2 separate regions of the Homo sapiens genome follow, and region 1 is linked to region 2. The links come from fine-mapping of genetic effects on gene expression. A gene starts in region 2. The other region holds a variant in brackets. All regions are shown on one strand. Distances are from middle to middle.

Region 1 (2,901 bases), 4.2 kb after region 2:
TAGCAACTTTTTCTATAAATGTAACAAATTCTGAAAAAAAAAACCAAAAAAAACAAAGAAACAAACTTTCAGTTCCTAACTACACCCATAAAAAATCAGACTCCCTGGTGTCAGGGAAGAAGAAACAATGGGTGACAATAAATAGACTCCACATAAAAGGGAAGGGAAAGGCTCCCTAGGTTGAGAAGTTATGATATGTGCTTCACTGGGAATGTAGGTACAGCCTTTGGAAATGATTAGTTGTTAACAATTGTCCACAGCTCTTCAGCTGCTCTACTTTATAATCCTTTAGTGTAGTGACATCTAAAACATTTTTTAAATAAATCAATCAACTGTATTTTTTAGAAAAATTTTAGTTCACAGCAATATTGAGCAGAAAGTAGAGTTGCTTGTCCCTTCACCCTCCTCCCACTTAAAACATTTTTAAAGCATTAATAGAATTCTTGGCTCCTTATTTTCCCCCCAAAAGAAATTCCTACCTAAAAAATAAAAATCGTGCTGCTCTGGTTCAAGTGGACTCATGGAGTCCCTCAACCTCTGTAAATCCTACTGCATGGTTTAACACCTGTTTTGCAGTTACTTCTCTTGAGTGGAATAATGAGAATAACTCAAGTTAGAAAGTACCCTCCGGACCACAGAAGTAGGGAGACTGTCATGTTGGAAATTATTCTCCAGGCTTCAGAAGCAAGAATTGTCATAATATTCTCCCAGGAATTAGAAAAGAGCAGGCTCTTGTTCTGACGTAGAAGCATAGAGTCTTCTAGGCCATAAATCTGCTTATTTTAGTTACAATAGTGAAAGGGCCAGTGGGCAACACGGTAAAAAGTACATGGGCCCAGAAATTGGGGACTTGGATGGGGCAGCTGGGATGTAGGGGACATATTAATTAAGACCTAGTGTGGGCCTTTCGTATTCTGGGTCAGATAAGTGAACAAGCAGGTGAGGTTCTGTGTGGGCTACCCTGGAATACAGTGTTGCATAGGGTTGTGTGAGAGGTGCGGGGAACGCCTAGAAAACTTTGCAGGGAGAATGTTTTCTAAGCCAACACCTAGAAGACAAGCAAGAGTTTGCTGGGCAGAGAGTGAAGCTGGGCGCGGCTGGGATCATGG[A/G]GCCGGATGTGCACAGCCGGGACATGGGGAAGAGCTGCAGTGGAGAGTGGGGTATGGTGGAGAGCAGTCAGGGCCAGACGATGCTGGCGGGCCTGGAGGCCTTGGGAGCGCTGACTTTCTCCAAGAGCTGGGGGTGCCAGGACAGGGTCCCAAGCAGCGGCCCTACGTGGCCTGGTTTGCTCTTCACTGGCAAGCTCCATGGCCCTGGGCAATGTGCTGCTTCTGTTTTTCTTCTCATCGGTGCCTGGCTGAGCTCTGGAATCGTTTCCTGCTCTGAGCCTGAAACTTCAAGCAGTAAGAAGACGGTCCACAGCCCGGTTACTGGGGCTCTGCAAATGCGACGTTCCCAGTGGCCCTCTCCCAGGCTCCGGGCCTCCGGGTAGAGGAACTTCTGTCTGTAAAGGATGAAGGCGACCTTGCTCAGGCTGCAGCGGGATGGAGAAACGTGACCCAGCGGAGGGGCTTTCGGCTGCGAGGTGCGAGAGGCGACCCGAGGGGTGAAAGCAAGGCGAGTGCGGTCAGCGCACCGGGCTGGGCGGCCTCCCAGCCGGCCGGGGAATTCGTTCCCAGCTCCAGCCGCATCTCACCGCCTCTATCGCGCCTTTGGGGCCTCAGAGGGAGGCTGCATGGCCCGGAGGCCTGAAATCCGCCATTTGTTCCCTCCCGGGGCGGCAGAGCCACAGCTCACTGAAGGCTGCAGCCTCGGCAGCCGGAAGCGCTGGCCGGGCGCTTGGCCAGCGACCGCCTCGGGTCGGCCTCGGGTCTGCGCAGGCGCAGGCTCGGGAAGCCGGGCGCGGTGGTGTTTCTGCGGCCCGCGGCTGCCCTCTCGTGGCCGCAAGGCGCCATGGCACGGCCGCTTCCACGCAGCGGAGGTGCGCTGGCCGGAAGGCGGCGGGTCCGGCCAGCCAGGGAGACCAGCCAAGCGCTGTGTTTTTCCAGGTCCGCGCGGGCCAGGGGAACCCTGCGTGTTTGCTTGGTGGGAGTGGTTTACTGGGAAAGTAGACGGAAGGTACCCTGCAAATCGGCGTGCACTGTATTGTTTGGGAGTCAACAGCCTGGAAAGTAAATATCAGGTGAGGGCAGTGCTGGGAACCACCGCCTGCCCCCTCCCCTGGCCTTGGCCCTGACTTTGAGCGGGGCACCGCGGGCCAAACAGCTCGGCGGCCCAGGGGAGAGGGAGGAGGAGGAGGAGGCAGGCAGCGGGGGAGGTGTCAAGACTCAGAAATAGGAGCCAGCTAGGCCCAACATACGCCTGCCACCCCAGGGGCTGCAAACAGGGAATACCATCCCTTCTGCCCACCCCACGAAGACATCGTACACCCCGACGAGTCACCATTCCAGAAAGGCTGGCTTTCTGCAAGCGTGCGGGGGCGGTGAGAGTGGAGGGTGGCGGGGTTGCTCGGGGCCCACCCAAGCATAACTGTCTGAAGGGCACACCTCACAACGGAAGGTTTAGGCGAGAGGGGTGAACCCACACTCTGGCACGAGAATCATATGTTCTGTTCCACCCAGGGAGCCGCACTACATAGAGTTCTCTTTAAATTCATCTTCACTGGCTGGGTGTGGCTGAGTCTTCTCCTATCTCCTGATTCTCAGTTAACTTTTTGCGTCCCACCCTGTTCTTGTCTCAAGCAGTCGCTTTGGAATGTGTTTCCTCTCGTCCGGGGTTTGAAGATTAGTCATGAAAAACATCACTCTGCCCTTGCTGAAGTGCATGTTGGCTACTCGATCATTCCACCTGTGTGCCCCAAGACGGTCTGCTAAGGAGGGCTCCCCTCTTTTCCATGCCCTC
Region 2 (2,901 bases):
CCTGAGCAGAAATGGGCAAACTTCAGTCTTTTTACTGTGTCTTTGCAGTATTCTATAGATAATTTCCTTAATTTGTAAATTTAGTGACCATTAGCTAGTGATCATTTGATGGGCAGCGATTCTAACAGTATAAAGTCCACAATGTTCTATGTCCCTAGCCTGCCGTTTTTCAGCTGCATGTAAAAGGGGGTAGGATGAGATAATCGACCATTATAAAGATTTAACTATTTTATGCTGAAGCGGCCATATTTTCAAGGGATGACACCATCTTGCACACAACAATGAAGGTACTCGGCCATAGACTTGGAGTGAGACCATATATGGGGATGAGATTCTTCTAGATCCTAATACTGCTGTACTGGCCTGTGTGTACATGGGGTCCTTCAGCTGAGGCCTTGCAAGGCAAGCCAGCTGTGCCATGTTTGTAGATGGGGCAGAGGAAGCTAGAACAATGGAAAAGTAACCTATTTATGCTAGGTCCACCTATTGAAACGAGGTAGGAATGAGGCTAGGGTCCTTAACTTCCTTCAGGCATACTTTTCTAGCTACCTTCTGCCCTGTGTCTGGTACCTACATCCTTGATGATTGTTCTCTTTCATCCATTGTGGAGATATATATATGTATGAAAAGCAAAAAAAATAAATTGCTGGGCTGGCACTACCTCAAAGCTTCTGATCCAGGAGGCCTAGGAGGGGGCAGTTAAGATGCATTTCTTACTAGTTCCCAGGTGATGCTTCTGCTGCTAGTCTGGGCACCACACTTTGAGAATCACAGCTCTAGGGCTAGGGGTGCTAATCTTCATTCCAAATGGAAAGGAGGCTGCTAAGGAGTCCACTTAAGTAATTTTTCCTGCGATAAAGACTTGCTTCCTTGTCACTTGCTGTCAACACCCCTCCACACAGCAGCGACTGCCTGGCTTAATTCTTAAAGTAGAGGCCTCTCAATAGACAGGGTGGACACTTCTTCGCCTCCTGGCAGGAGAGAGAAAGAACGGACTTCAATCTTTGGTTGGCAGGGCCTGACTAGGCAGTCGGGCACAGAACCCTAGGGCTTTCCCACCCCTTTGCTTTCTCACTTGTAAAACGAATAAAGGTACTGGTCCTGCCAGCTTCACAGGTTGCTGTACATAGAGGAATGGTTGGTTGAAAGTGCCCTGCATAACGCAAGCTCTTTAGGACTCGCAAACAGCCTTAATCGCAGTAAGGGGGCACATCAGGGCTGTGAGAAGGCCCCCTTGAGGGCTCGGCACAGGTGATTCTGGGCTCTCTGTGCTTGCCAGCCTCCTAAAGTAGGTGCCCACTTTCAGAAGCTCTGCACGCCCCACCTGGGCGCCTCTGCTGGAGGTCTGCCTGGCCCGGGGCACCCGTGTGCGCGCGAGGATTTCTTTTGCAGAGAATGAAACCACCGTTCCTTTCCGTCCGTGGTCTACTCCGGGGTCCCCATCCCACGTAAGTGCTGTGGAACCCCGGGGTGATGAGCCCCGGGGGAAGCCAGCATCTCTTGCCCTCCAGTGCCGGCGCCCGGCAGAGCCCCGGGACTCCTAGTTTTTGCCGCCGCTGAGGACGCGGCGCGGGCTGCTGGCCGCGTCGCCGAGGGAGGGCCCGGACAGCCCTGCAGCGCGTCTCAGCGGAGCCCTGGGGGCCGCGCCGCTCCTCCAAACATGATTCAGAACCGCCCGTCAGCCTTGGCTCCAGCGCCTGGCGCGAGCGAACCGGGCTTGGCTGTCTCGGCCCCGTCTGAACCCTGCGGGCCGCGGGCCAGGGCGCGCCGGGATCCGCTGCGCCAGGACCCTGCAGACCCGGCCGCGGCCGGGCCGAGTGCCTCCCGCCGGGGCCTTACGCCCACGGTCCACGCTTGCAACACCAGGGCTGTACGGCGGGTCCGCAGCTGGGTCTGCGCCTGGGACTCGGGGCTCCCTGCGCTCCTCGTGCCGCACCCCTTGCCTTAACCCCAAGCGGACGGGTCCTGGGGCTTCACCGGCCAGGCCGGAGCCCCAGCCCCACAACTCCCCCCCTCCCACCGCACTGCCCCCTCTGCGCTGTGGCGGGAGTTGGGGACTGGGGCCGGAGAAAGGAGACGCGCCGGTCCTCAAGTCTCTTGAGCCATTTCGGTTCCGGGCGCGCCCCCCAGGGCTGCAGTCGCGCGAGGTTCCAGATAGTGCAGCTGTGTGGCGCCAGGCTTCCAGCGGGTTCTTGGTGGGGGTTCCCTCTCTGTGAGTCGGTGGGCAGAGATTTGCCTTGGAGGGTCGCACCTGGCTACAGAAGTATGAGACTTAGTTTCCGGGGAGCAGAGGGGCCTTGGGATAAGGAACTGAAGCTTCTGGGGAGTAGTTTGGAATTTTGGTTCCACCAATTATCAGCTGTCCAACCTGGAGAAATCCACTCCCCCTGTTTTCTTGGTTATAAATAACTATAGCTACCATTTGAGTGCTTATTATTTTCCATGTACTTTACGTATGTTATTTTTATCTTTCCAACGATTTTACAGGCCATATTCTGCTGATGGAGAAATGGGATCTCACCCAAGGAAAGTGACTTGCCAGGGTTACACCACTGGTAAGTGGAGACCTATGACTTGAACCTGTCTCTAACTCCAGAGACTGTACTTTCTCGGTAAGTGAGAACATTGACGCCATACAAAGAATTTTAAAACTGTAAGATGGTGACGGATACCATTCTCTTCTGACCTGTCCTCAGGCCACGTCCTGAAGTCCAGGCTGAAAGCATGACCTTTCTTTCTCCCTACCTCCTCAGCCACGCTTCCCTAGGCGGGTCAGAGTGCAAGAGGTAGGGTCTGGGACTGGGGACCCCTGGGTCAGCCTTGCACACCACCCCCACCTGGACCCTTCCCATCCTCATTTCTACCCCACACTGCTCAATGTCCTTGAGAGACAAGGTGGTG

Direction of the effects. Alleles are on the strand shown, and positions count from the first base shown. SD is a standard deviation of normalised expression in the study named.
For the expression in sun-exposed skin of the gene that starts at base 1,364 in region 2, allele G in region 1 goes with a higher level than allele A (moderate effect, 0.73 SD a copy in GTEx).

Evidence for each region.
Region 1: its variant is fine-mapped to the expression of LINC02767 in sun-exposed skin (GTEx, PIP above 0.99). The same link has a PIP of 0.9 or more in esophagus muscle, unexposed skin and visceral fat.

What each region holds. Positions count from the first base shown.
Region 1 is chr1:207,961,782-207,964,682 of GRCh38, forward strand. The region is part of intron 2 of LINC02767 (long intergenic non-protein coding RNA 2767); the gene reads left to right. Among named protein-coding and RNA genes, the nearest start is that of LINC02767, 4.2 kb to the left of the region's middle. RefSeq lists enhancers at 1,484-1,583, 1,644-1,703, 2,390-2,901. The variant A/G (reference allele first, on the strand shown) is at 1,110.
Region 2 is chr1:207,957,628-207,960,528 of GRCh38, forward strand. LINC02767 (long intergenic non-protein coding RNA 2767) reads left to right here and starts at 1,364. Exons shown (of 3, transcript NR_167983.1): 1 at 1,364-1,448; 2 at 2,488-2,612. RefSeq lists enhancers at 835-1,336, 1,337-1,836.